7 linked regions of the Homo sapiens genome follow. The protein of the gene in region 1 purifies or fractionates together with the protein of each later gene. This does not show direct contact. Each region holds a gene or a part of one and is shown in the gene's direction. Other genes may lie near its edges.

Region 1 (4,885 bases):
CTCAAAACCTGTCTGTCCCCTTCCTTACAGGACTGCAGCGGCGCTACGCATGTGCCAACTTTGGAGAACAGGGAGTGACTGTAGGCTGCTGGGACACCTACCGGCATGACATTGATTGCCAGTGGGTGGATATCACAGATGTGGGCCCCGGGAATTATATCTTCCAGGTAAGGCGGCTGGGGGATTCCCCACAGAGCCTGATTTCCTCCAGATGTTCCACAACTTTCCCTGAGGGCAAATGAAGGGAAGAATTTCCCATACAGGGTTTCCGACAGGCCTGTCACTTAAAGGAGCTGTCCTGTTAGGGAAGTAACAGTCAAGCTGGGTCCAATGAACCTGTGTTTGAGTATTGATTCAGTGAACACTGGATAAATCAGTTTCTCAGTTGGGACTTCTCAGTCCCTATCTGTAAAATGGGAACATCAGTACCTACCTCCTGGGTAATTGTTAAGAATTAATGAAGCAAATAGAAACACATGTAAGGATTATCACAGCCACAGTCAACTCATTCAGAAACCAAATCACCCATTTTCAGTTGTCCCCTCTTTCACTCTAGGTGATTGTGAACCCCCACTATGAAGTGGCAGAGTCAGATTTCTCCAACAATATGCTGCAGTGCCGCTGCAAGTATGATGGGCACCGGGTCTGGCTGCACAACTGCCACACAGGTAACTCCGAGCCACTGTGGAATCAGCCATCTATAGGCTCAGGGAGCTGGAACACTGTAAATGTACCCTCTGCTCCCACACTCCAGCGTGTGACTTGTATGTGTGTGGTGTGCAAAAGGCTATGGATGGAACAGAGATGCATTTCCTTTGACATCTTACAAGGCAGACTTCTAGAACTGGTCAGACCATCGGCTTCACCCAATAACTACATCTTCTACATCCCTGTTTGCACTTAAGGCTGTTTGATTGTAAACTCAGTTTCCAATCTGTTCTAGAATCTTTCCTGTCACCTCAAGCCATGTCAGGATTTTCAAGTCCATTATTTTTCCTTTCTCTTTCATATAGAAGTTAGGGTTAGGGTCCTCACAGGCAAAAGTAGTCCTCTTGCTCTGTGTTGCTGTCTCCAGCTGTGATCACTGCTTGCAAGAAGGGGACCATGGAAAACAGAGCCACTTACAGGATTGGTAGCATCAGTCAAAGGAAGCATCATGATCCAGTGGGGGCAGAGAAGAGGGGCTGTTCTGTCAGTAAAGACTCCCTCTATCTTCAAGGGTTAAAAATGCCCATATTTGCTATGGGATATGCATTCACTCATACTTGCATATGTGCGGTGGGATGGGGCAGAGTTGTTCATTTAGTCAACAAACATTTACTAAGGCTCACTATTGTGTTGAACGCTGTGCCCCAGAAACTGGGAATGTAAGTGTCAGATAGGGTATGCACACATGCAAATAGCCCCAATACTACTAATGTGTGGACTGAATGCTGAGCAAGCACAGACAGAAAGCAACCTGTTGGGGGCTAGCACAAGCTTCACAGAAGTAGTATTTGATCTGAGGTTTGAAGGAGGAGCCAAAGTCAAACATGGGAGGAGTAGAGAAAGAGCACAGGACTGGGCTTTGGAAGGCGTCACCCGAATCCAGTCCCACCACTTTCTAGCTGGAGGACAGTGAGGAAATCACGACCTGAGTTTTCTGTTTTGTAAAATGGGGCTGTATACTTCAAACTTACTAAGTACTAGAGCTTTTTGCAGGGAGGGTTGTGATAGTTCTAAGATAATGGATTTTATCCCGTGGGCTTCTGGGAACTATTGACAAATTTCAGTCAAGGAGGCAAAAGATCATTTAGGTTTTCAAAAAATAACTGTGGCAACAGATGGACGAAAATGAGAAGAGGAAGAACAGTCTAAGGTTTCGAATTTGTGTGGCTGAGTAGATTGTGCTGCCACTTAAATGAAACAGGGATATTGAGAGGAACCAGGAACTGGAATCCAAGGCTACGCACACGGAGACAGCAGATCCTCCATAATGCTAGAATCAGGCTGCAAGGGTTCCCAGGCAGTGACAAGGGCAAGAAAAATAATGCAGTCCTGCAGGTCCTCTTGCCAGTGTTTAGGATCCAACAGGGCTAAACAGAAGTGTGCGGAAAACAGAAGGCACACTCGGGTGAGAGTCTGAGTTTATTTAATTAAAGGACTATTTATAAGAAAACAAGGAGTGTTGAGACATCAAGCATAAAGAAAGTAGAAAACCGTTATCTGCTTTAGGCTTGAAGAGGGGCAAGGGCTGCTTTGCAGCCAGGTGCAAGCCAGAGTTGTGAAGGAGGGTGAACCTAGCTGGAACAGGAGTCACAGACCATCACTGCCAGAACCACAGGGCCAAAGTAGGGGAAGGAATATCCGGCCTCTCTCCTTCCACCCTCTGACCTTCTGCTGTTGCTTTCCATTGACCCAACTCAAACAAACAAAAAAAGAGGACAAAGGAGCCAGAGTGATGTAATCGCTAGGCATCAGCTTCCTAGGGCACAGAGGGAAAAAAGGGCAGAGAATGAACCTGGGGAGGGGGGCAAAGGAGAATAACTAGCACAACTCTTTCCAATCAATAGCCTGTTCTTCCTGATGTTCCTGAAACCACACACCTGTCCCAGGCCTATTTCTATAAAATGATTGGTGTCTGTGCCCATGCCATGACTTGATATAAAGGATGAGCTGGGCAGAGTGGATCTATGTAAGTTGTCAGGGAAGGGATGAGACTGGAAAGGTTGGCTACTTACCTGTTTTCCTTTGGCCCACAGGGAATTCATACCCAGCCAATGCAGAACTCTCCCTGGAGCAGGAACAGCGTCTCAGGAACAACCTCATCTGAAGCTGTCACTGCACACTCCTAGCTGCTGCCGATACACCAGATACCTCAGCTTATTGGAGCCATGCCCTTCACAGAGTCCCAACTCAGAGGAAAAGGGCCAGTGCCAAGGGGCACCAAGAACCTGCTCAGGAAGCCTTTTGATGGCAAGATCACCAATCCAGATGGTATTGCTCCCTCAGGATGGCTCTGGGCCTGCCCCTAAGGGCCTGTGGCCTATGGAATATGTCCTCCAGGCTTTGCTCAGCTGAGCTCCTCTTCTGTAAGGAAACCCAGTCATCCCTGAATCTTGCCACAGAGATCCGGGATTCAGGAGCTCTCAGTTTCTTAGGGATGGACTATGGCCCAGTCCCCCATCTAAGTGGTGCTTTGCAAATGTCTTGGAGGAGTATAGGACAGAGGACCAAAATACACAGCAGGTAGTGTTAGCTCTCTGCTAGGAGCTCAAAGCAACACAACTTGTATCAAAATCACAACTGGCAGAGAAGCTGGTGGATCCAATCCTTTCTTCATCTGTTGTTATTTAGAACTCACCTCTCACACTCTGTTCTTTAGTGTCCTTACCTTTATCTTACCACACACATGGGTGTTTCTATTATCCTTGGAAGCACAGACCTCGGGCATCCCCTTATTGCCTGATGGGCCAACACCAACAGTTACGGAGTGCTTGAGAAGGGGCAAGTTTCACAGAAATGGCCAGATAGGGCCTTCCTACAGAGCAGCAAGAGTAGGCCAAGCAGAAAGACTGCTGAGGTAACACGGACCCCAGCCCCTGTCAGGGCCTCTGCCAAGGAAATAATATGGACCATTTACCTGGCAGGCAGTCTGCTCTCTCTCAGGATCACCACGCATCTCAGGATTGGTCTAAACTTCAAGTCTCAACCAAGTGTCTGAAGTGAACTTTGCATTGAATAAATTTTTGCCATGGAAAGAACATCAAACAAGCCACTCATCTCTACAGAGATAAGAAAACAAGTTTGGCAGAGCAAGAGACAGAAGACCGTGGAGAAATCAGAAGGGGGAACAGTCAGTTTAGTTAAGGATGGAACCTGGGAAAGGCCACCATTCCTGCTTGATGGGGCTCTGATTTGCTCTTGCTCAAGTGGAATAAAACCCCATGGTCTTCTTGACATGATTCTTGATCTTTTCTCCACTGAGACACACTTAAGTGATGATCCTTACAGGACTGACACCCTAATGCCAATAAAAGTTGCTCATTATGGACTGCTACAAAGACCAGACCAGCTGTGATTATGTACACACCCCAGAACCACAGACCTACCCTTTTGCCTCCCATGGAGCCAGGGCCTGGGATACACAGGGCACACATGCTTCTCATGACTGCCCATCTACATTTCTCCAATCAGACATAAGTCTGCTTCCCAGTCAGCCTCCCCAGGCTTAGAGCTGAAACACGGGTTAGAAAGGTTAAGGGGTAAAGGATAGGGGCAAGAAGGTAAAGTCTGAGGATTGCAAACTTTTATAATCAAGGCTGCGAAGCCAAAATAAATGGTAGCAGATGGAGCAGATTTACAACAGCACTACCCCCACCACATCACAAGAGCCACCACATCACAAGAGCTACCCCCTCCTTAGGGAGTAAAAAGGGACATGTTCCGGGGAACCCTCTGTGAATACAAAGAAGTGCTTTCTTCCTTATCCCCGACCTTCCCTCTCCTCAACTCCCTCATCTCCTTCATTAGGCAGAGGGAGCATTATATTTTGGCATGGCAGTTTAGGTAAACAAGGGAAGGACTGATTTCCTGTTGGATCCAGCAAACATCCCCCAAACAGTAACAACATTATGCTCACACATGCAGCTAATGGTCTGTGAAAGAATGTGCAGCTAGCAGGGGAGCATGTGGTGACTGATGACTAGATTCAAGCAGGGAGGTTACCCACAGCTGCTTGCTGGATCCAGTTTCTAAGAGGGACCAAAAAAACAGGCCAGGCAGCCAGCCACCGGCTCTGGTCTCAGCCTTGCTGCCCACATTACACGTTTGATAGGTGCAGCCAGTTCTAATTCTTGGAAAAGGCCATACAAGGGTTGTGCTGTTACAACTCTGAGCTGAAAGG
Region 2 (3,500 bases), on another chromosome or scaffold:
TGCATGCATGTGTGAATTGTCCTCACTGTTTCTGTGCCCTCTCTTCATCAGCACCCGAATCTCTGTGCATCTCCACCCATAGCCCAGCTTTCCAGTGTGTGGGACTGTCCTTCAGACATTCTCCTGTTGTTGCAGGATCGCAGTACCCTATTTTCCGCTGTGTGCACAGAAGCACTCATGAAGAGGCTCCTGAGAGTTACTGTGACTCCAGCATGAAGCCGACCCCCGAGGAGGAGCCCTGCAACATCTTCCCTTGCCCAGCCTTGTAAGAAGGCCCCTCCATTTAGGTCGCCTATTACCGGGTCACTTCAGGTCACTTATGCACAGGACCTTAGGAACAGATATAAGTCAGTCTAAATCTGAGTTAGAAATACAAGACTTGGACCATGCATAAAATGCAGTCTGTTTAGCAGGCACACCTGTCTTTCAGGATGAACTCAGGAGCTGATAGCCTTTAGCAAGTCAACCCACTTCTGGGAAGCCCACCCTTGACAAAGCTGGAGCAATTAGGTTTGAGCCTGGTAAGGAAAACAAAGGAGGAAGCAAAAAACGAGAAGCCAGTGTAGTTGGTGTCGTAGGTGAGCTGTTCACAGAGAGAGGATAATGCAAGTCACAAAAACATCAGCCTGGAGAGGCCAAGAAAAGTGTCTCGGGAGAGGTCTTGAACTGTTTCGGTTTTTTGGTTTTGTTTTTGTTTTTATGGCAGAGTCTAGCTCTGTTGCCCAGGCCAGATTGCAGTGGCACGATCTCAGCAAACTCCGCCTCCTGGATTCAAGCAATTCTCCTGCATCAGCCTCCCGAGTAGCTGGGACTACAGGTGCACATTACCACGCCTGGCTAATTTTTGTATTTTTTGTAGGGACAGGGTTTTGCCATGTTGGCCAGGCTGGTCTTGAACTCCTGAGCACTAATGGTCTGCCCACCTCAGCCTCCCAAAGTGCTGGGATTACGGGCGTGAGCCACTGCGCCTGGCCTTGAACTGGTTATTGAATGATAAATGGGACACTTGAAGAAGAACAAGGGGAAAGGGCCCTAAAAGGGTCAAAACCTAATTTGCAGAGTAATAAAAATATAATTCTCATCCAAGTATATGGTGAGCATGGGCTGATGTCTCATTTAACTAATAACAGAGCAGATGACAGAGGAGGGTTTGCAAAACTGATACGGGAATTGTTAATGAAAAATAATGCTAGAATAAGATTCCTAAGTTAGTAGCAAAAATGAGTTAATGATCTACAGTGTAATAAAACTAACCTTTGGAGGTTTTTTTTTTAATTAGATAAAAATCATTTGTACGTTTTCAGTTTTCTATAACTTTTCATAGAATCTGGGCCCTAATCACTGGTAAATAGCATGTCAAGTGTCAGGCAAATTTATCTGCCTTTACAGAGTCAGATGACCCTTAGGCAGACTTTTTCTTTTTCTTTTTCTTTTCTTTTTTTGAGACAGGGTCCTACTCCATTGCCCAGGCTGGAGTGCAGTGGCACAATCATGGCTCACTGCAGCCTCAATCTCCCAGGCTCAAGCCATCCCCTGACCTCAGCCTCCCGAGTAGCTGGGACTACAGGCACACACCACCACACCCAGCTAACTTTGGTATTTTTTGTAGAGACGGGGTTTTGCCATGTTGCCCAGGCTGGTCTCGAACTCCTGGGCTCAAGCCATCCTCCCACCTCAGCTTCCCAAAGTGCTGGGATTACAGGCGTGCGCCACTGTGCCCAGCCTAGGCTGACTTTCAAGCAATGCTCTAGTAAGAAACTCTACCCATAGTGATTCTGATGATTCTGTGTACGCTGCTGCGGGCTCACGCTGACTTCCTGTTGACTGAAGGTTGTCTCTCACTCTCGCTCTCTCATTCCTGAACCAGCTGGGACATCGGGGAGTGGTCTGAGTGCAGCAAGACCTGTGGCCTGGGCATGCAGCACCGCCAGGTTCTGTGCCGCCAGGTGTACGCCAACCGCAGCCTGACGGTGCAGCCCTACCGCTGCCAGCACCTGGAGAAACCTGAGACCACCAGCACCTGCCAACTCAAGATCTGCAGCGAGTGGCAGATCCGGACCGACTGGACCTCGGTACGCAGGCAGGGCAGCCCGCTCTGCAGCTCCCTCTCCAGCTCCCACCACACTTTCCAGCCTCCCCCACCAAGACCTGAGATGGGTAACCCTGAGTTCCACAGGAGGGAACCCGTCCCGTGGGGGTCTGGACGGCTGTTTTTGCAAACCACAGGATGTACCAATAGTTCAATAGAGTTCAGGGTAGTGTGTGCCACCCACAGCCAACTTTATGAGTGAGCCCAGGGGGAGCCCTCTGATACTGGCCTCATCTGCTTTGTGAGTCATGGTGAAGTGAAGGTTGGCAACTGCTGGTAGAGCCAACTCCTTCCAATTTTCCCTACCCATTTTATAGCTGAAAAGACTGAGGCCTGGAAGAATAGAGTAGTGTCAGTCAAAATTAAGGCTGTTAAGGCAGAAATAATTTGATAAAAGATTTATTGGAAGCCAATGTAAGGATCAGCCCAAGAAGACACACGAACAACGTTGGACATGTTCCAAAGTCTGTTACAAGTTGAAAGGCTTTTAGAAGAAAGTTTAGGAGAGGAGACGGGGACCCCTTGAATCGGAGTTGTCTTTTTCATTGGAGGGTACAGCACAGAGGTTGCAATCACTGGCTACAGATGACGACATACAGGCTAAAATGTTTTAAGTGCAAGACAGTCAATAAAACTTCATGAGTCAGAAATAAATCAGCAAAACTTTATGACTCAGAAACAAACCAAACAAACCAGTGTCCTCTTCAATGTCCACAGGTTACGTATTAATCAGTATGTCAACAGTTTGAAGAATTCACAATAAGATTTGAGGAACTGACAATAATATTCTTTACTCTAAACAGGATGTAAGCCATGAATCCTAAGACCTTCTTCCCAGGCAACTTAGAACATAGTTTATTCTTCAAGGGCAGAGGTGCATGACTTAACCCCTTGCCTGCCATGGCGTTGGGTCCTGTTTATAATTTGGTATCTTATTGCCACAGAGAGTCCATTCTGTCAGTCTTATGATTTCTCCCTTAACATCAGTGCTGGTCGGTTGTGTCTAGACTGCAAAACGGAGGTGGTATGACAGGGTGTGTCCAACCTTCCATCCTGTCATGGCCAGGAAATCCATTTTTAAGGTTTCTCTGGGGGTCTCCTTGGCCAAGAGGAGGCCCATTCAGTCAGCTGGGAGGCTTAGGATTTTATTTTTAGTTTACAGTAGGCGAGGCATCTAAGAAGGTCTTGTAGAAAAGGGTTGTGGAGTTTTCTAGGGCTCAGATCCCTGCCCCAGCTGGTGACATGCATGACAGAGCCTCAGTCTCATGGGGCTGATCACAAAGGCTGCGGGCTCCATACTGGCAATTCTCTCCCAGAGCTGAAGCTGCTGGTTCCCCTGACGTCAGTGTGCTGTGTTTCAGTGCTCGGTGCCCTGCGGCGTGGGACAGAGGACCCGTGATGTGAAGTGTGT
Region 3 (4,380 bases), on another chromosome or scaffold:
AGAAATTGTTAAGAGCTGTCCATTTGTAATGAAAACTCGAAAATTTTTCATTTTTAAGGCATCTCCTGTCTTGTACTCATTATGTCTCATCCATGGCCTGGAATGTCTTAGCGATTTTCACACTTCTATTTAGTGGCAAAATCATTCCTTCAAAGACAGCTTTTTCATGGGATCCCCTGTATAAAACAGACCAATCTGGATGCCTGATTTTTTAGAGTGGGTTTCAGATGGAAATGGGGGTTATTCAAGAATGAAAGGAATCTCCGCAGATCTCAGAATGGAAAACCACTCCAGTCTGAGTTTGTTTTGCATTTTCTGAGTTTTTATTGCTGGTGCTCAGGTGCTAGGTTCACCTGGTCGGCACATTTCTTCCTCATTTCATTTACTAGGGGCCATGCTAACTGTTGCTCCAGCCTTACTAGCAGTCTACCATCAACGGTAAAAGCATTCCCTTCTCAATCTTTGTGCAAAAGTTTCCTTCCAGGTTGTTGAGTTGACCCACGAAAGTCATGACGCTAATAGAATTGTCTTGACACAAAAACAACAGCATTGAAGAAATCAGAAATGGTGCAGGCTTTCGGGTGTGGGAATGCTTTTTTCTCTCTTGAATGAAGTTGCTGAAGAGTGGTCTTAAGTTATCCTGTTCTGTAACCAACAGGAGGACTCACGAATGGCAGTGGAAGATACATCTCTGCTGCTCCAGGCGCTGAAGCCAAGTACCGCAGTGCAAGCAGCGCCTCCAGCCTCTTCAGCCCGAGCAGCACTCTTTTCTCTTCCTCTCGTTTGCGATATGGAATGTCTGATGTCATGCCTTCTGGCAGGAGCAGGCTTTTGGAAGATTTTCGAAACAACCGGTACCCCAATTTACAACTGCGGGAGATTGCTGGACATATAATGGAATTTTCCCAAGACCAGCATGGGTCCAGGTGAGTACTTGGCTTTGGCACTTTAAGGTACCCGAAATTGTAATGCCTTAACTGTCTTGGCTCAGATGGGTATCTACTTAAATAAATTGCCATATAGTAATTTTTTAAAAGCGTGCCTCTTAGTTTGCATCACATTATTTCATAGGGATTTAAGAAACAAACATGAACACAAAGACATACATACACTTCGGCTGCTTTAAGCATTATGAAGAATCTTTTGCTCTCAAAGAGTTGCTATTCAAATACAAGTTTGATCTAGGGTGCTGAGGAGTAAGACAGCTCTACCACCTTTCTTTGTTGTTCCACTCTGTAGAAGTGACAGTCTATGTAGAGACGAGAGAAGAAACTATTATAGAAGACAGAATTTGGTTTGGTTTACCCCTTCCTGTTGGGCTGCTGCAGTGGGCTTCACAGAAAGCGAATCTGGTCCTGGGGATAGAGCATAATTATGGTGACAACACCCATCCTTCTTTCCCATTTCTGTTTCTGTTTCTTTCTCTGATACTGTGTCCAGTGAAACAGTTTCTACAGAAGCTACCTCCTCCTTAAGTTCTGCCAGCTTGCTACTGGGCCAAAATTTCTCATATTTGAATTCTATAGGCTAGATTCAGAGGCAACATGATTTTCCTGATAGTGGTCATTTGGACTAAAAAAAGGCAGACTGTTACTACTTCAGAAGATAATGAATACTGTTTTGTTTTTGTTTTTTTGTTTTGTTTTGTTTTGTTTTGTTTTTTTGAGACAGAGTCTTGCTCTGTCGCCCAGGCTGGAGTGCAGTGGCGCAATCTTGGCTCATTGCAAGCTCTGCCTCCCGGGTTCACGCCATTCTCCTGCTTCAGCCTCCCGAGTAGCTGATGAGTACTGTTTTATATGAAAATAAGTTAAAGAATATAGTAAGGACTGTAAGCTTTGAGTTCATTGATGTGAGGCTGGTTTCTAAAGGAAAAAAGTCAAGTAGGGTACATGTTGTGTTATGTCTCCCTCCACCCCTCCTCTCTTCCTGCACCCCTGCCCCTCCCGCCCCCCCCCCGCCCCCCCCGCTTTCATCTTCCCTCCCACCTTGCACATAAATAAGATTCAGTATGCATGCCCTACTGGAATGAAATGTGCCAACATTTATATGTAATTTTCAAAGCTCAATTAAGTTAGGACCTTCTTCCTCTATTTAAAAACTCTTCAAGGGAGTTCAAGTGATTCATTCAAATAAAGTTTGGTTTATTGTGTGCATGTGTGTGCACACATGCTCACTCACATGTTTCAGAACGGATGCAGTCTATAAACCGAGGTACACTGATGTATCTCCAGGTCTTCCTTCAGTGCTGTGATTGCCCTTTTTACTTTGTACTTCAGATTCATTCAGCTGAAACTGGAGCGTGCCACACCAGCTGAGCGCCAGCTTGTCTTCAATGAAATCCTCCAGGCTGCCTACCAACTCATGGTGGATGTGTTTGGTAATTACGTCATTCAGAAGTTCTTTGAAGTAAGCCTTTGTTCTTTCTATCCTTTGACTTAAGAGAATCTGCAGAGCATTTTGATTTTCATTAGCCTTTTTAAGCATAGCAGTCCCATTCCAGTCCTCAGAATGAAGGGTGTGTGGTCTTTTTGAAGAGGTTTTTAGTGTTTTTCCAATTCATTAGCAGCAGTCTATCTATTCTGTATGGTTTAAATATCCGAGCAGATAATGCCAATCTATTTTGGAAATGTGTTTCGAAAACTGGTGTCCCCATTTAGGACCCAGCACATTATTTCAGATTGTTATAATAGTTTCACAAAACGTGTCACTTAAGGAGGAAATAATCCTTGTAAAGTAGTTTTAGCAGGATCACAATAAAATATTGCCAAAAACAAATTTTTCTAAGGTTCTTAGAGAATTGTCTTTGGACACCGACTCCAGTATGTTTCATTATCAGCTAGGGTCACAAGAATTGTTAAATGCTGCTTCTTGGCTGATCGTTTGGCCTTGATTTCTTGTTTTACTTCTGTTAATTTGAATAATGTTCACTTGTTGTATCATTGTCTTTGGAAAGAATGAGATTGTTAGGTTGATGTCTTTTCCCTCTAGTGAGGTAAAATTTCAGAGAGGCAGGGACTTTTTTGCTTACCATTGTAGCCCTTATTATCTGGTATTGGCAACCCTAAGGTGTAGATGCAGAATGGCACAAAACTTCGAGATGAGGAGGAGTCTGGTATGGGGAGGAAAATGCTGGAATTCTGCACATTACCTACCACAAAACAAATTTGTAAATGTCTTAACATCTCATCCTGTTTGATTTGTATGAAGATGAAAAACTGACGTACTCAAGTTTTACCTTCCCAAGTTTTTTCATGAAGACTTATGTTTTTTCACCCTGAATTCTTCAGCTTTGGACTAAGAAACCAATCTAAACATGACTTTTGTATTTTTGATTTTAGAATGACTTTGCACTGCCGTTTTGTCACATATATAAAAATACTGAGCTTTCTAGTTCTGGAGGCTGATGCACCTTGGGGTGACAAAATGTACAATGGATTATAGCCATATGATTTGGACCAAGCTTGAGAACTTCTCTGGATCTTAGTTTCCCTTGGGAGAATGAGGAGGTTGGATGGGCTGAGAATTCATAAAGTCTCCTCCAATCTCACGATTATGTGATTGAAATGAAAATAATAAGCCAAGGATGGAAAATCATTCTAAGTAGAATTTTAACATTGTGTAGCCTCACTTCTTGATTCTACTGATTTTTCCCCTCCCAACTCTGTTACCTTGTGTAAATAGGAGAAAAAAAAATCAATTCTCTTAATGATGTAGAATACTATTTCAAAACAGTGTGTCCATGTGTGCTTTGGCAGTAAGAGTGTAGGATTCTTTTTTTTGACACACAGTCTTGCTCCATTGGGCAGGCTGGAGTGTAGTGGTGCTATCTCAGCTCACTGTAACCTCTGCCGCCTGGGTTCAAGCGATTCTCCTGCCTCAGCCTCCGGAGTAGCTGGAGTTAACAGGAGCGTGCCACCATGCCCAGCCAATTTTTGTGTTTTTAGTAGAGGCAGGATTTTGCCATGTTGGCGAGGCTGGTCTCAAACTCCTGACCTCAGGTGATCCACCCTCCTTGGCCTCCCAAAGTGCTGGGTTTACCGGTGTGAGCCACTGCACCTGGCCAGATTCATTTAATAGTATGAATTAATGACAGCTTTGAGGAATTATGTGTTTGCTTAGCAGATATTAATAGTGAAACTACCTATTGTTGGGTATCCGAGAAACTTCTTAACATTAAAAAGGGTTACTCATAATTAAGAGATCGAGAACTACTGGCTTGAAGAAGCAATGGCTCTTTAAATAAAAGGTTTAGTTAATCATGGGTATCAGGGCTAAAAGAGGTTATGCCAGTGGTTGATGCAGAATAATGAATGCTTTGCTTTCTCTGGTTTATTTCCTTCTACTTAAGTAATGGTGTTTACCCACACATTATGTCTAGTT
Region 4 (4,380 bases), on another chromosome or scaffold:
AAGATTCCTCGATGGGACCTTAGCAAGTTCCTGCGAGTCAGCACAAAGATTGGGAGCTGCATGAAGAGCGTTGGTGAGACTCATGCCCTGGGCACCCCCATGGGGCCCCACCATGACCAAGAATCTTAAATGTCAAGAGTTCCCTGGCATGGCCTTTTACGTCCTATGGGAGCAGGTGCTTGAGACATTTCAAACTAAGATTATAGTCCTTGTCAGGAGTTGGGGAGGCATCTGGAAATCTGTGTTGGAATACAGAATCTCTGGGATAGGTGCAAGCCATCAGACTATCTCATCTCATTTTTGCAGTATCTCCTCCTCTGGCACTTTGTGCTTTGGTCACTAAATGACCTTTTTTTTTAGTATGATGTTTACATCAGAGCAGGGCATCATAAACCTTTTTGGTAACAAGGAAATTTATTAGTGAATGATGAATGGCCGTAACGTTACCCAGCAGTGGCAGAGCATGTTAGAATTGAGTTAGTATGTTTCTTTGTGGTATCCCTTTAGTTGCCGAAGACCGTCCTCTAACACATTTCAACCAAAACAAAAATATACGTGTACCAGACACAGCGCCACCAGCCTGATGGATAAGAGCATTTTGTGGTGCTCCAGATTTCCATTTAGAGCAGTAGTGGCCTTTAAACAAGTAAGTCTAAGCTCAGATATTATTTCAGAATTTTTAGAAATTCTGCAAGACTGCCAATTTTTTCCTTCTGGAGATGAATCTCTGTTATATGAAAATTAGAATAAACATGGGAATGAAGCCATAATTAAATTGTGGCAAAAAGAAGTGGATTGAAAATAGGCCAATGAAAGATTGGTTCCTAGATGAGACATTTAATTGTTTTACATCTGTTCAAGTATTCTTGGAATGTGGTCTTCTTTGGTAACTTTTTGTAACTTTTATTATACAAGTAAGAAACATGAATCATGGAAAACGAGGAAAGATAGTTTAACCAAAGAACAGTAGTCACCTGTAATCTTGCCTTACAGAGATTGATTAATTCGACCGTGTATCTGCGACTGCATAATTCAGCCGTGTATCTACGACTGCATACATTTCTAGGCATATGTGTATGCATGTATTAGGCTTCTCCTTTTTTAACAAATCTCAAAATAAAAAGTCTTACAACCACAGTTACAAAGAAATTGAACAAAATCAGTCACACTACTGTTAACATCGTAGTGTTTTTAAAACTTTTTTAAAGAAATGTAAATGTTAGGATTGTAAATAGAAAAATACACTTGGTAAGAAATACTTAAGCCCCTAGAGTAAATAGTCAGAGGAGATGAACAACACTTTACAGAAGAAGAAATCAATAAGCAAACCTAGAGAAAAGACGGTTCCTCTCATTAGTAAATAGAAATCTAGTTAAATGAGACTCTGTTTATGCCCACTTCTTAGAAGGTTGCTTAAACTTTGTATTATGAAGCACAGACTTCTATAAAGTTATTCGTACTCATCAAGGGCTATAAAATTTGTGTTACCTATTGCCTCTACATATCTGGAAATTTATCCTAAGGAGATTATCCAAAACAGAAAACATCATATCCAGTCCAGGCACGGTGGTTGTAATTAATCCCAGCACTTTGGAAAGCTCAGGTGGGAGGATCGCTTGAGCCCACGAGTTCAAGGTTGCAGTGAGCTGTGATTGTACCACTGCATTCCAGTCTGGGTGCCAGGCTAAGACCCTGTCTTTTTTGTTTGTTTGTTTGTTTGAGACGGATTTTCATTCTTGTTGCCCAGGCTGGAGTGCAATGGTGTGATCTCGGCTCACCACAATCTCTGCCTCCTGGGTTCAAGTGATTCTCCTGTCTCAGCCTCCAGAGTAACTGGGATTACAGGCATGTGCCATCACGCCTGGCTAATTTTGTATTTTAATAGAGACAGGGTTTCTCCCTGTTGGTCAGGCTGGTCTTGAACGCCCGTGCTCAGGTGATCCACCCACCTTTGGCCTCCCAAAGTGCTGGGATTACAGGCCACTGTGCCTGGCCGAGACCCTGTCTCTTTTTTCTTTTCTTTTTTTTTTTTCTTTTTTTTTTTTTTTGAGGCAGAGTCTTCCTCTGTCGCCAGGCTGGAGTGCAGTGGTGCTATCTCGGCTCACTGCAACCTCTGCCTCCCAGGTTCAAGCGATTCACCTGCCTCAGCCTCCTGAGTAGCTGGGACTACAGGCGCGCACAACCACGCCCAGCTAATTTTTGTATTTTTAGTAGAGACGGGGGTTTCATCATACTGCTTAGGATGGTCTCGATCTCTTAACCTCGTGATCCGCCTGCCTCGGCCTCCCAAAGTGCTGGGATTACAGGCATGAGTCACCATGCCCGGCCGACCCTGTCTCGTTAAAAAAGAAAGAAAACATCACAGCCTAACTTATAATTATGAAAACTTTTTTTTTTAATACGGAGTTTTATTCTGTCACCCAGGGTGGAGTGCAATGGTGTGACTTAGCTCACTGCAGCTTGGATCTTCTAGGCTTAAGTAATCTCCCACCCCATCCTTCTGAGGAGTGAGACTACAGGTGTACACCACCACACCTTGCTAATTTTTTTTTTTAATTATTATTTGTAGAGAGGGAGGTCTCACTATGTTGTGCCGGCTGGTCTCAATCTGCCTTAGGTGATCCTTCTGCCTCAGCCTTCCAAAGTGTTGGATTACAGGTGAGAGCCACCAGGACTGCCTAATTGTAAACACTTAAAAGCGAAATGGGCCGGGCGCGGTGGCTCATGCCTGTAATCCCAGCACATTGGGAGGGTGAGGTGGGCATATCATGAGGTCAGGAGTTTGAGACTAGCCTGGCCAATATGGTGAAACCCCATCTCTAGAAAATATACAAAAATTAGCTAGGCATGGTGGCACGCACCTGTAGTCCCAGCTACTCAGGAGGCTGAGGCAGGAGAATCGCTTGACCTCAGGAAGCAGAGGTTGCAGTGAGCTGAGATTGCACCACTGACTCCAGCCTGGGCAACACAGTGAGACTACGTCTCAGAAAAAAAAAAAAAAAAAAAGCTAAATGTCCTTCAGTTAGTAGTTAAATTATGGCAGATCATACAAGAATTAAGTTAGTTGGTTGGGCGCAGTGGCACACGCCTGTAATCCCAGCACTTTGGGAGGCCGAGGCAGGTGGATCACCTGAGGTTGGGAGTTCGAGACCAGCCTGGCCAACATGGTGAAACCCCGTCTCTACTAAAAATACAAAAATTACCCAGGCATGGTGGCAGGTGCCTGTAATCCCAGCTACTTGGGAGGCTGAGGCAGGAGAATCACTTGAACCCAGGAGGCACAGGTTACACTGAGCTGAGATCATGCCATTGCAGTCCAGCGTGGGTGATGAGAGAAACTCCGTCTCAAGAAAGAATTAAGTTGGTGTTGATGAGGCCATGTGGCAATGTGGGAAAATGTATGATGAGGAAAAAACACAGGATGGAAATTATATGTATGCTGTGATGATATGTAAAACATACCTATGAAGGGCCCGGCACGGTGGCTCACGCCTGTAACCCCAGCACTTTGGGAGGCCGAGGCGGGTGGATCACGGGGTCAGGAGTTTGAGACCAGCTTGGCCAACATGGTGAAATCCCGTCTCTAATTAGCCAGACATGGTGACACGCACCTGTAATCACAGCTACTCAGGAGGCTGAGGCAGGAGAATCTCTTGAACCCAGGAAGCAGAGGTTGCAGTGAGTCGAGACCGTGCCATTGCATTCCAGCCTGGGCAACAAGAGCGAAAGTCCATCTAAAAAAAAAAAACCTATGAACCTATGAAGAAAAGTCCAGAAAGAGAAACTCTAAAATGATTGTTGTAAATGTGATTTGCTCTGCATGGATGAGTAGTAAGGATCATCTTCCTATTATCTACACTTTTTTAAAAAGTTTTAAAGAATTCCAGTTGGTGTTATGATTATGTGAATAAATCAAACCCAATAACTGGACAGCCATCAGTGGTTTGGGCCACTGTGATAAACTTCCAGTATCCAGTGTATGGGGATATATTCCAGTATCCCCATGCCCGTTTTAGGCATATTGATTCCATATTCATCAATAAGCACAAAGCCTGAGCTTATCCATGAAAATAGCAGGGAAAAGAGCTATAAGTTAAGATTTCTTTTTGTTTGTTTGTTTGTTTTGTTTTGTTTGAGACGGAGTCTCGCTTTGTTCCCCGGGCTGGAGTGCAATGGTGTGATCGCTGCTCACTGCAAGCTCCACCTCCCGGGTTCACGCCATTTTCCTGCCTCAGCCTCTGGAGTAGCTGGGGCTACAGGCGCCCGCCACCACTCCCGGCTAATTTTTTTGTATTTTTAGTAGAGACGGGGTTTCACCATGTTAGCCAGGATGGTCTCGATCTCCTGACCTCGTGATCCTTCCGCCTCAGCCTCCCAAAG
Region 5 (4,380 bases), on another chromosome or scaffold:
GTTTTTGCATCTACATTTGGGTATTTGTGGATCTGAACTGAAAATTAAAGACAGAACTTGAAGGCAGAAGCAAGTTGGGGAGGAGATAAAAAATTGCCCAATATCTCCATCTTACTAATGTACTCTCCATATCTTCCTTCCTCTCTGTGTGTGTGATGAAAATTACATTTCCTAAACAGACATAGTAAAGTTACCTAGATTGAACTTTTCTAAGCTTTTTATGTTTCTGATTGACACCTTCCCTGTCTTGGTGAGCTCCTCAATGTGGATAAAATAAAATGAGGGAGTGAAGACTGTAAACTAGGGTTTCTGAACCCTGTGCTATTGACTTTTTGGGGCAGAAAATTTGTTGTGGACCTTTCCTGTATGTTGTACCACGTGGAGGTTTATTGGTCTTCACCCGTTAGGTACCAATAGCCTCTAGTTGTGACAACCCAAAACGTTTCCAGAATTGCCTGAATCACTCCCAGTAGAGAACCACTGCTGTGACCACAGTGCTCCTATCACCTTTTATGTGAAAATGTTTTATGTAATTGGTATGTTAGAAATTTTCTTTTGTGAAACTCATACGCTATTTCTTAACAAATTAAGATTTAACATTTATCTGATTTTTATCAACACCAAAGTATTCTACTTTCTGATAAAAAAATCAAAGCTTTAAAATGTGACTGGTTCAGGAACAAAAATATTAAAAGTTTTATATGACTTACTATTCTTGCATGTATATAACAAGAAGGACAAATTTTCTTACTGAATTAAATTTACCTCCTTATCATTCCTTGATTTTGCAGTAAAACAAATTACTTTGGTACTCTGTTAATCAAACTCATGGTGAAGTGACTACATTTTTGAAGGACTTTCCAGATGTGTAATAGGGAAAATATTTTAAAGAGAGCGACAAGTATATGAAGTTGCTGTTCTCTATTTTTAGATTTTCATTATGTTTAGAGCTTAATTTTCCCTCTTACTATATAAGAGAAAGGTAGCAATTTGTAGTAAGATTATTTTTTGGTTGACTTTTGTTTTAAGTTTTACTAGGAGTTGGCATTTACTGATGTGCTACTTAATAGTCTAACAACAAAACTGATGTAGCTATGAGATAGTGTTGTATGACTTTTGGAAATTGGTCTTACAGTTTTCTTGCATGAGCAGATGTGCACTGAAAGCCTTCATACAGTCTTATTCTTAATAAGGCTTTGATCACTTCCATGGAGGTTAATTACTGAAGAACAAGGAGTTCCCAGCCTTAGCAACTTGGGGTCCACATAGTATAGATTCCAAGAATGGGGTTAATGTGAGACACCAGAGAGATTAGTTTTTTGTTTCTTGTCCTTTAACTTACGTTCCTCACTTTCTCATGATTTCTAAAACTACAAGAGAAATAAAAAAGAACTAGATTACCCACCCACATTATGTTTCAGTCCTTTTTTTTCTATATTCTAAGGAGAAAAGTAGTGGTAAACAGGAAGAAGTCAAGGAAAGGGAAATGGTTTTTCTCGCTATGGTAATATCTAGGTAGGAATGATTTGATTTGCATCATGTATCATAATAAAATTACAGTCTATGCTCTGTTTACAAAATACCTGAAAGTTATACAGAACATTCAAAAGTTAATGCAGTTAGGGATTCTGAGTGTCTAATTAACCTTTCTCCATTGCTTTTACTCACAGATTTTAATTGCTAAAAAGCACAGATTTAAACTTCTGATATTTTAATTTGTTATGGCTCTCAAAATCAGACTCTTATTCTTAGTTATATTATTGTATTTAATCATTTTAGTTTTAAAATAGTTACTGTTTTGTGTTTACTGATTGTTCCATTTACAATTCGTGTAAAAGAAGGTAAATAAAATTACATTTTATTTAAAAATTAAAACTCATAACACAATTCCTATTTAACCATACATATTTATAAAATATTTGCAAGTTACTGTAATAGTCATTCTTAATTTAAGATTGAAACATTCTATCACAAAAATTCATGTTCTGGGAAAATATCAGGCCTTTTTTTTTTTTAAATAGAAAAATAGGAGACTAGTGTGGATGTTTGCTTCCTAGTTTAGATTGTTACCAAGCACTAGGTTAATAAATATCTTGAACAGTTTCTGTAGATGAAAAGGTTGATTGATATTTGCTGATGCTGCTTTTATCATGCTCTCATTCTTGAAGGATAAAATTAGCCCTTCTGGCCTACTCTTTGAAAACAGAGTAGTATTTCACGTGGGTTAAATAGCTTTTGAGTGATAGCAGAGCCAGAAAGAAGGCTAGTTCTTCCCTGCAGTAGTAGCAAAGAGAATTAGTCTTAGTAATTATTAATAGTAATGTGAGCCATTTTTGAAAGCTACTCTGTAAGCTATACTCATTGCTTGTCTTCTTAGTGTGTTAGCTTTTATAATCGCAATTCTTATAATAGTCTAGTGCTATAGATGTTCATGGATTGTTTGATGCTCCATAACTCCTCATTTAGATAACTTTTTAGTAACAGCATCTTCCAGTGGCGACAAAATAGTTGTCTCAAGTTGCAAATGTAAACCTGTTCCACTTTTAGAGCTTGCTGAAGGGGTAAGTGATTTTTTTTTTTTTTAAACTTTTAAAAATCTTAGTTTTGCTTGACTGGCAATTGCTTATTGTGGTGCTTGCGACTAAATATAAAGGTTTTTAAAAGCATTATTTTTAACTTAAGCTCAAAATAATATAGTAACACTTAAAAATGAGATATGTGTACTTACTAAAGTATTTTTAGGTAAAATAGTTTTGAATATAGGGGAACAATTGAAGACTTGAATTTTGTTGACTAGGCACTTCATTTCTCCATTTTCCCTCAGTGGGAGAGGATCTCTGTTGCTGCTATTTTAGGACGATATCCCACATAGGTTACTAGGTTGACCTGAGCATATAAACTCTAATGACACAGCACTGCTTTACTGATCTTGGGCTCAGGACCATCAGGAACAGACTCACAGCTGATGGTAGCTCTCTGCTTCAGATTCTGTCCACCTGTACTGAGGGGCCTGTCTGAGCCTCCCCCATACTCTCCTTAAACAGGTTGGCTTTGTCAAAATGAGCTTAGGTCCCAGGGCGTTTAAATGAAGCTCTCACTACGTACTGTTGCCTTATCCTTTTTTTTTTTTCTTTTGAGATGGAGTCTCGCTCTGTTGCCCAGGCTGGAGTGCAATGGTGCAATCTTAGCTCACTGCAACCTCCGCCTCCCCAGTTCAAGCGATTCTCCTGCCTCAGCCTCTCAAGTGGCAGGGATTACAGGTGCCCACCACCACGCCTGGCTAATTTTTGTATTTTTAGTAGAGACGGGGTTTCACCATGTTGGCCAGGCTGGTCTTGAACTCCTGACCTCATGATCCGCCCGCCTCAGCCTCCCAAAGTGCTGGGATTACAGGCATGAGCCACCACACCCAGCCTATCCTTTTGTTTTATAAGTTAATCCCTCTGATTAAGGATAATACTGGCTTCTTCATTTCTAGTCACACACTCTTTGAAAGCTATTTCTTTTTTAAATAAGATAAGATTTAAATAAAAAGATATGGTAGTTGATAGCTTTTTTTTTTAATTTCAAAGTTTTTCTAGCAGATCTTAAATTATTATGAATTGTCATAATTTTACACACTGGGATAGGTAAAGTAGCCCAATTAGAAAGAAAACAGCAGGACAACTGAATAAAAGCTCAACTAATTTAAAGAGGACTCATGATTTTTATCAATCCTCTCCTAAAGGTATCCAGTGGGATTGACCTGAACTTCAGTTCTAACCCACAGATGTTGGAGACTGGGACAGAGGGAACATGTGCTAACAGTAGAAATGGAGTTTGAGGCACTCTGTTTAACCTGACTTAAGCAGAATCAAGGCATAGAATGTCTCTGGTCGATAAAGGCAGACTGAAGTCTTCAAGAGCAGGCAAAACATCTTAACCATCTTTGGATCTTTGTATCCTAAGATGTTCAAAAAACTTGTTAATGTCAACATCAAAACAATTTCAACTTCTACTCTACCACTATATATATGTACTACTGTTATGCATTATGCCTTAGGATCAGTGAATCAGTATTTGGGAGCTTTTTTTTTAAAGTATAAAAATAACAGATGGTATTTACAAGTGTGACATAATTCTAAGAGTTTTGTGAATATTCCAAATTAGTTGCTATGATTCTTAGCCCTCTTTCCCATAGTTAACAAATTGTATCATAATGCTGTTGGATAAAAGTAAGATTAGTTGAGTTCAAATTTTCAATCTATTTTAATTTAGTTATGAAAATATTTGGAAACATTGGTTTTTTAGCTTTTACTAGTAATGTTTACAGAAACATATTAATGTGCTAATAACCTTTTTGTAACTTCCAAGTCCTCTTACTCGTGTATTATTTGAGGC
Region 6 (3,500 bases), on another chromosome or scaffold:
TTATTAGAATTTTTTTCACTCTCTGACACAGAGTTCTATTTTAATTCTTTTTTTTTTTTTTTTGAGATGGAGTTTTGCTCCTGTTGCCCAGGCCGGAGTGCAATGGTGCAGTCTTGGCTCACTGTAACCTCTGCCTCCCAGGTTCAAGCGATTCTCCTGCCTCAGCCTCCCAAGTAGCTGGGATTATAGGCATGTGCCACCATGCCCAGCTAATTTTGTATTTATAGTAGAGACGGGGTTTCACCATGTAGACCAGGCTGGTCTCGAACTCCTGATCTCAAGTGATCCACCCGACTCGGCCTCCCAAAGTGCTGGGATTACAGGTGTGAGCCACTGCACCTGGCCCTATTTTAATTCCTAAACAGTAAAAGATGATCTGAAATAAAACTAGTTAGAATGAATATGGTATTTTTATTACATTATATTTTTACATATTTCTATTTTATTTATATATAAACAGTATGAATATGGTATTTTATATTTTGCTATATATTTTATTAATATATTTATATTTTTAAATGTTATATATATTGTTTGATTGTAATAAAAATTAAAGATTTAAGTTCTGCACTTTGTGTTGATTGCTGAAGACCTTCCAACTGACATCTTTTAAAAACTTATATATTTATAAGTAGATACTTATATAATTTATATACTTCAGCATGCCAGATCAGTAGTTTATAAGGAGTTCCCAGTTTTATTTTCTTTTTCTTTTCTTTTCTTTTTTTTTTTTTTTTTTTTTGAGACAGAGTCTCACACTGTTGCCCGGGCTGGTGTGCAGTGGTGCGATCTCAGCTCGCTGCAACTTCTGCCTCCCAGGTTCAAGTGATTCTCCTGCCTCAGCCTCCTGAGTAGCTAGTATTACAGGCACCTGCCACCACACCTGGCTAATTTTTTGTATTTTTAGTGGAGGCGGGGTTTCACTGTGTTGGCCAGGCTGGTCTCAAACTCCTGACCTCATGATCTGCTTGCCTCGGCCTCCCAAAGTGTTGGGATTACAGGCATGAGCCTCTGCGCCCGGCCTTATTTTATTTTTCTTACTTACCCGTGGAACAAAGAATCAGGAATAAATATTAGAGATGCTGATTTGGCCGGAAGCAGTGGCTCACACTTGTAATTTCAGCACTTTGGGAGGCCAAGGCAGGCAGATCACCTGAGGTTGGGAGTTCGAGACCAGCCTGACCAACATGAAGAAACCTCGTCTCTACTAAAAATACAAAATTAGCCGGGCGTGGTGGCACATGCCTGTAATCCCAGCTACTCGGGAGGCTGAGGCAGGAGAATTGTTTGAACCTGGGAGGCGGAGGTTGCGGTGAGCCAAGATTGCGCCATTGCACTCCAGCCTGGGCAAACAAGAGCGAAACTCTGTCTCAAAAACACAAACAAACAAAAATGCTGATTTGGAGGAAGAATTTGAAAACTTAACAATTTAACTTAGGATGTAATCATCAAGAGTTTTATAGCTGTTCTGTATTTAGTAAAGTGGCATTTCTGGCCAATATTAATACATTTTAATGTAAGTTAGCCAAAATTTATTAGCAATACAGTTTTTGAAAGTTTAACTTTTAAGAGTTGCAAGCTTTTTTCTAATCATGCTTATCTCTTCAATTAGGGTTGAAAGGAGGAGCAGGAGGTACTGATGGACAAGGAGGTACCTTCCGGTACACCTTTCATGGCGATCCTCATGCTACATTTGCTGCATTTTTCGGAGGGTCCAACCCCTTTGAAATTTTCTTTGGAAGACGAATGGGTGGTGGTAGAGATTCTGAAGAAATGGAAATAGATGGTGATCCTTTTAGTGCCTTTGGTTTCAGCATGAATGGATATCCAAGAGACAGGAATTCTGTGGGGCCATCCCGCCTCAAACAAGATCCTCCAGTTATTCATGAACTTAGAGTATCACTTGAAGAGATATATAGTGGTTGTACCAAACGGATGAAGATTTCTCGAAAAAGGCTAAACGCTGATGGAAGGAGTTACAGATCTGAGGACAAAATTCTTACCATTGAGATTAAAAAAGGGTGGAAAGAAGGCACCAAAATTACTTTTCCAAGAGAAGGAGATGAAACACCAAATAGTATTCCAGCAGACATTGTTTTTATCATTAAAGACAAAGATCATCCAAAATTTAAAAGGGATGGATCAAATATAATTTATACTGCTAAAATTAGTTTACGAGAGGTAAGTTGGTAGGACCTAAAATCCTAAGACCAAATAATTATGTAGTTGATCATAGGGAGTGTATCTAGATAATAGCTAACATTTATTTAATGCCTATTATACGTTAAAAATAATTACTATAAAAATCCTCTAAGATAGTACTAGTATTATACCTCTTTTATGGATGTGATTATATTTTCTAACTTTAGTTACTTATAATTAAAGTGTCAAGTGTTAACTGGATTATGTACTATGAGGCTGCTTTTACAAATGTGGTTTATGAGATCTGCATTGGTAATCTCAACACATTAGTCTTTGTATATAGGGTTTGTTCTAAATTTGTTAATATGGAGTAATAATTGCATACCAAAAAAGATTAGAAGAAAATAATTTATAATTCACTACAAATTTGTATACATTTATATTAATAAAAAATACATTTATAAGTGCATATAAATATATACATTTATAAATTATAATGCTACTATGTTAATACAATTATTATTTGAGTTCTTATTTGCACTATTTCTTTTTTTTTTTTGAGACAGAGTCTTGCTCTGTCACCCACAGCGCAATCTCGGCTCACTGCAACCTCTGCCTCCGGGTTCAAGTGATTCTCTTGCCTCGGCCTCCTAAGTAGCTGGGATTACAGGCGCCCCCCACCACACCTGGCTAATTTTTGTATTTTTAGTAGACACAGGGTTTTACCATGTTGGCCAGGCTGGTCTTGAATTCCTGACCTCAGGTGATCCACTTGCCTTGGCCTCCCAAAGTGCTAGGATTACAGGCATGAGCCACCACGCCTGGCCTATTTGTACTATTTCTCAAATTGGATTGTAACTTTGCAAATATGGTCATAGCAGTTCCCTGCTTCAAATTCTTAAATTGCTCTATATAACCTCTACCATAAAGTCCAAACTCTTTAGCTTAAAATAAGTCATTTTAAATCTGATGTCTACCCATAAAATGTATATGCACTTCCCCAAGTTTGCTCTATTATTATTATTATTATTTTTTTGAGATGGAGTCTCGCTCTGTCACCCATGCTGGAGTGCAGTGGCACAATCTCAGCTAGTACTGCAGCCTCCACCTCCCAGGTTCAAGTAATTCTCCTGCCTCAGGTTCCTGAGTAGCTGGGATTACAGGTGCCCGCCACCATGCCCAGCTGATTTTCATATTTTTAGTAGCGATAGGTTTTCACCATGTTGGCCAGGCTCGTCTTGAACTCTTGACCTCAAGTAATCCGCCCACCTCGGCCTCCCAAAGTGCTGGGACTATAGGCATGAGCCACCGCACCTGGCCCAGTTTGCTCTATTATTATCTTGTATACTTGAGCTGTA
Region 7 (4,380 bases), on another chromosome or scaffold:
AATAACAAGATTTCAAAACACTGATGAAAGAAATTGAAGAGCACAAAAACAAATGGAAAGACATCCCATGCTCATGGGTCAGAAGAATTAACATCATTAAAATGACCATGTTGCTCAAAGTAATCTACAGATTGAATGCAATCCCTATTAAAATACCAGTCATTTTTCACAGAAATAAAACAATCCTAAAATTTCCACAGAACCAACAAGGAGCCCAAATACCCAAAGTAATCCTGAGCAAACCGAACAAAGCTAGAAGCATCACACTACCTGTCTTCGAAATAAGGCTATAGTAACCACATACAAGGTTATAGTAACCACAAATAAGGCTATAGTAACCACAATAATATGGTATTGGTATAGAAAGACACATAGACCAATGGAACAAAAATAGGTAATGCAGAAATAAATCCACATATTTACAGCCAACTGATTTTTTTACAAAAGCACCAAGAACGTGCATTGGGAAAAGGACACTTTCTTCAATAAACGATGCTGGGAAAATTGGATATCCACATGCAGAAGAATGAAATCTGACCCTTGTCTCACCATATGCAAATTCAACTTGAGATGGATTAAAGACTTAAGACCTGAAATTATAAAAGTACTAGAAGAAAATGTAGGGGAAACACTTCAGGACATCGATCTAACAAAGATTTTATGGCTAAGACCTCAAAAGCACAGGCAACAAAAACAAATAGACATATGGGACTATATTAAACCAAAAGGCGTCTGCACAGTAAAGGAAACAACAGAATGAAGAGACAACATATTGAATAGGAGAAAGTGTTTGCAAAAGATTCATCCAGCAAGGGACTAATATCCAGAATATGCAAGGAAGCCAACAGTAAGAAAAACAACCCCATTAAAAAGTGGGCAAAGGACATGAATAGACGTTTCTCAAAAGAAGACATACAAATGGCCAAAAGGTATGTGAAAAAATGTGCAACATCACTAATCGTCAAGGAAATGTAAGTGAAAACCACAGTGAGGTGTCTTACCCCAGTCAGAATGGCTATTGTTAAAAAGACAAAAAAATATACTACTGGTGAGAGTGTGAAGAAAAGGCAACTGTTACAGACTGTTGGTGGGAATGTTACAATAATTAGGACAGGCACTATGAAAAACAGTTTGGAAATTTCTCAGAAAACCGAAAACAGAACTACCATATGATCCGGCAGTTCCACTGCTGGGTATCTATCTAAAGGAAAAGAAATCAGTATATCAAAGAAATACCTGCACTCCCATGTTTATCATGTCATTTGCAGCAGCTTGAATGGAACTGGAGGTCATTATATTAAGGGAAATCAGGCACAGAAAGAGAAGTGTCTCATGTTCTTACTCACATGTGGGAGCGAAACACATTGATTTCATGGAGATAGAATGATAGCAGAGGTTGGGAAGGATGGGAGGGGAGGTAAAGAGAGGTAGGTTAATGGGTCCAAACATAAAGTTAGATGGAATAAGTTCTAAGGTTTGATAGCAGAGTAGGGTAACTACAGTTAACATTTTGAAATAGCTAAAAGAGAGGACTTGAAATGTTCCCAACACATAGAAATGATAAATACTCACGGTGATGGATACCCTAAATACCCTGACTTGATTATTTCATACTCTTTGCATGTATCACAATATCACATGTACCCCATAAACATGTGCAAATAATTATGTATCCAAAAAATGCTATAAAACAATGTTACCACCTGACTGGGCTCTTGTCTGCTATCCGAATAGAGCAGAACACTGAGACAGCAGATACTGTAAAGAAGAAAGAGTTTAATTATTGCAAGGCAGCTGAGTAAGGAGGATGGGAAATGTTTCTCAGAGTCATCACCGCCAAGACTGGAGAAGCTAAGATATTTAAAGATGATTTGGCAGGCAGGGGGCTAGGGGATGGGTGCTGGTGATTGGACTGGTATGAGATCATAGGGTTATCAATGCTGTCTTCATGTGCTGAATCAGTTGCTGGGAAATTGGGGAGTCACAAGACCAAGTCAGTTCCTTGGTTGAGTTCATGGAACACTGGTCCATTTGGTGTCAGTTGGTCCACTTGTAAGCAAAGTCTGAAAAATATCTCGAAGACCAGTCTTAGGTTTTACAGTAGTGTTTGTGACTGCCAGTTACTATGGAAAGAAAGCTGGGAAAAAATGGCAGGTTACTGTTTAAACCTATAGCTTAGCAGAAGAGTTTGCAGGAGGTGAGATCACCAGTGATCAAAGTGGCCTGGCCTGTTTGGCCAGTCCAAATTCTGGAAACTATCAAGGGGGTCTGTGTGATCTAGGATCATTGTTTTCTTGTTCTTCTCTTCTATTTTCTTTTTTGAGACAGGATCTTGCTCTGTTGCCCGGGCTGTAGTGCAGTAGCATGATCACAGCTCACTGCAGCCTCGACCTCGGGCTCAAGCAATCCTCCCACCTCAGCCTCCTGAGTAGCTGGGACTACAGGCATGCACCACCACACCTGGCTAATTTTTTGTATTTTTAGTAGAGACTGAATTTCAGTGTTGCCCAGGCTGGTCAAACTCCCAAGCTCAAGCAATCTGCCTGCCTTGGCCTCCCAAAGTGCTGGGATTACAGGCATGTGCCGCAGCACCCAGTCTGGATTATTGTTCTTTAAAAGAAACAGGTTTGTTAATCTTATGGGCAGCCTGCCCAGGGGCTGCCACAGGAAGACAATTATTAGTGACTGCCATTTGTTGAAATGACTTTGCAAGCAGTCATACATGGAGGTGGAAAAAGAGAAGGAAAATATTTTATCAAAATTCGGGCCCCTACCGTAATTTTAATCTTGAGGGTGTTTTTAATTTTATGAGGGAGGCTTCAGCAGGAGTCAGCAAGCTACACCCATAGGCCAGATAGACTTGCCTCCTGCAATACAGTAGTTTTATTGGAACACACATGCACTGAAATAAGATTTGATTTCATGGAATAGCCAAGACCTTGTTTTAATGAGACAGTAGACTTCTGCCTTCGAAGTCTCATCCCAGGCTCTTTTATATCAGATTGCGTTAGGTTTAAAGAAGGTTGCAGGTAGTTGAAGAATCTCAGGTAATAAGGTATCTCTCCCAACCAAAAAAAAAAAAAAAAAAAAATTCTTTACAGCAGTTGATACACTGCTTGAGAGCTTGAGAGACTTCATTTGATAAGATTAATTTTTATCAGGGCAATATAGATTTAATGTTTTACCTTGTAGAAAAAAGTAGTACTTTTTTTGAAGGAATCTCTAAAGTTGCAGGGAAAGATTAATAACCAATTACATGCCAAACAGAAAAGCCTAATAACTGCCTCTTCCACAAGGGAAAAATCTGAATATGAGACAGTAGCTGAAAGTTTCTTGAATTCACCTTGAGAAGACTTAAAACATATTTTTAGGATTTATGCTGAATAAGGTTCAAGGAATTTGAATGAATAGAAAGGAGAAAGTAAGTTTGTAGGAGGATAGGATAGGTTTGTGCGATAGATCTATTTTCAGAAACATTGAATTTTGATTGTCATAAGCATAAAAAGGTTGGAAAATTTGTTTTGTAATGACTTAATGGCAATAGTAATTCCTGTCAATTAGTTATTAGATTTTCAGGAAACACCTTGTGTCAAGGGTTAAATTCAGCTTATTGTATTTAGTAGAAGCACAAAAACAAGTTGTATAATCTCAGAAAGTTTTAGAGCCTAGAAAGTTCTACGTTTAGCTGTAGAACTTTCAGATTAGAAAATTTGACCTTTAATGTTCTTGGCCGCATACCAGTCACGCACTTACTGTATGTTCCAAAGAAAGGAATCCTGCTGTTAACAGGAAGTCTTTAGTTGGAATACTAAAGGCAGACTGAATTCCTTTGTTTTGCGCTTAAATTTTAGTTCTGTCTCGAAAACATTTTTAAACGTTTAAAGATGACTAAAGAAATCAGGATACAAAAATCAGACTGAAAAGTGTGAGCTTTATCAAGAAATACTGGATTTGCAGTTACTCGGGTAATGTGTAAATATTTGTGTAACCAGAATCTTTTGAGGAGGGGTTGATAATCTTTAGAGACACCACCTTTTCTGTATTTATTTTGCAGAGGAAGAGAGAAAGCATTTGGTTGAGTTTAATACTTAGATCTTTTTATCAACATCTTGATTATAACACATGCTAATAATGTGTAGCATCCATTACTAGGGACCCTGTGGAACTGTGTTAGAGCTCTAGATCCATTTTATTCTCTGTAGCCACTACAAAATTTGGAAACCGGCCTATTTGAGTCTTATTCATAATGGTAGATCTCATAAATATCTGCCTGGTTGTATGAGATTAAGTTTTTTGGCACATCTACTGATAGCTGAGAGAGAAAATAATACTTTATCTGTGTCTTCGACTAAGTCATATGTTTAGTGTGTGAATGTTTTA

What was found.
Region 2: the proteins of LOXL4 (region 1) and THSD4 purify together in Homo sapiens (affinity purification with mass spectrometry; one large-scale study listed by BioGRID and IntAct). This does not show direct contact.
Region 3: the proteins of LOXL4 (region 1) and PUM1 purify together in Homo sapiens (affinity purification with mass spectrometry; one large-scale study listed by BioGRID and IntAct). This does not show direct contact.
Region 4: the proteins of LOXL4 (region 1) and CAD purify together in Homo sapiens (affinity purification with mass spectrometry; one large-scale study listed by BioGRID and IntAct). This does not show direct contact.
Region 5: the proteins of LOXL4 (region 1) and NEDD1 purify together in Homo sapiens (affinity purification with mass spectrometry; one large-scale study listed by BioGRID and IntAct). This does not show direct contact.
Region 6: the proteins of LOXL4 (region 1) and DNAJB4 purify together in Homo sapiens (affinity purification with mass spectrometry; one large-scale study listed by BioGRID and IntAct). This does not show direct contact.
Region 7: the proteins of LOXL4 (region 1) and SAV1 purify together in Homo sapiens (affinity purification with mass spectrometry; one large-scale study listed by BioGRID and IntAct). This does not show direct contact.

The regions. Positions count from the first base shown.
Region 1 is NC_000010.11:98,246,848-98,251,732, reverse strand, and holds the end of LOXL4 (lysyl oxidase homolog 4 precursor), read left to right. Parts: intron 1-30; coding exon 31-167; intron 168-556; coding exon 557-668; intron 669-2,741; coding exon 2,742-2,812; 3' UTR 2,813-4,043; downstream 4,044-4,885. UniProt on the Homo sapiens protein: Catalyzes the oxidative deamination of lysine and hydroxylysine residues in collagen and elastin, resulting in the formation of covalent cross-linkages, and the stabilization of collagen and elastin fibers.
Region 2 is NC_000015.10:71,744,971-71,748,470, forward strand, and holds part of THSD4 (thrombospondin type-1 domain-containing protein 4 isoform 1 precursor), read left to right. Parts: intron 1-135; coding exon 136-265; intron 266-1,867; coding exon 1,868-2,072; intron 2,073-3,450; coding exon 3,451-3,500. UniProt on the Homo sapiens protein: Promotes FBN1 matrix assembly.
Region 3 is NC_000001.11:30,950,260-30,954,639, reverse strand, and holds part of PUM1 (pumilio homolog 1), read left to right. Parts: intron 1-658; coding exon 659-926; intron 927-2,276; coding exon 2,277-2,406; intron 2,407-4,378; coding exon 4,379-4,380. UniProt on the Homo sapiens protein: Sequence-specific RNA-binding protein that acts as a post-transcriptional repressor by binding the 3'-UTR of mRNA targets.
Region 4 is NC_000002.12:27,226,890-27,231,269, forward strand, and holds part of CAD (multifunctional protein CAD), read left to right. Parts: coding exon 1-73; intron 74-4,380. UniProt on the Homo sapiens protein: Multifunctional protein that encodes the first 3 enzymatic activities of the de novo pyrimidine pathway: carbamoylphosphate synthetase (CPSase; EC 6.3.5.5), aspartate transcarbamylase (ATCase; EC 2.1.3.2) and dihydroorotase (DHOase; EC 3.5.2.3).
Region 5 is NC_000012.12:96,910,257-96,914,636, forward strand, and holds part of NEDD1 (protein NEDD1), read left to right. Parts: intron 1-2,466; coding exon 2,467-2,561; intron 2,562-4,380. UniProt on the Homo sapiens protein: Required for mitosis progression. Promotes the nucleation of microtubules from the spindle.
Region 6 is NC_000001.11:78,011,439-78,014,938, forward strand, and holds part of DNAJB4 (dnaJ homolog subfamily B member 4), read left to right. Parts: intron 1-1,612; coding exon 1,613-2,181; intron 2,182-3,500. UniProt on the Homo sapiens protein: Probable chaperone. Stimulates ATP hydrolysis and the folding of unfolded proteins mediated by HSPA1A/B (in vitro).
Region 7 is NC_000014.9:50,657,785-50,662,164, reverse strand, and holds part of SAV1 (protein salvador homolog 1), read left to right. Parts: intron 1-4,380. UniProt on the Homo sapiens protein: Regulator of STK3/MST2 and STK4/MST1 in the Hippo signaling pathway which plays a pivotal role in organ size control and tumor suppression by restricting proliferation and promoting apoptosis.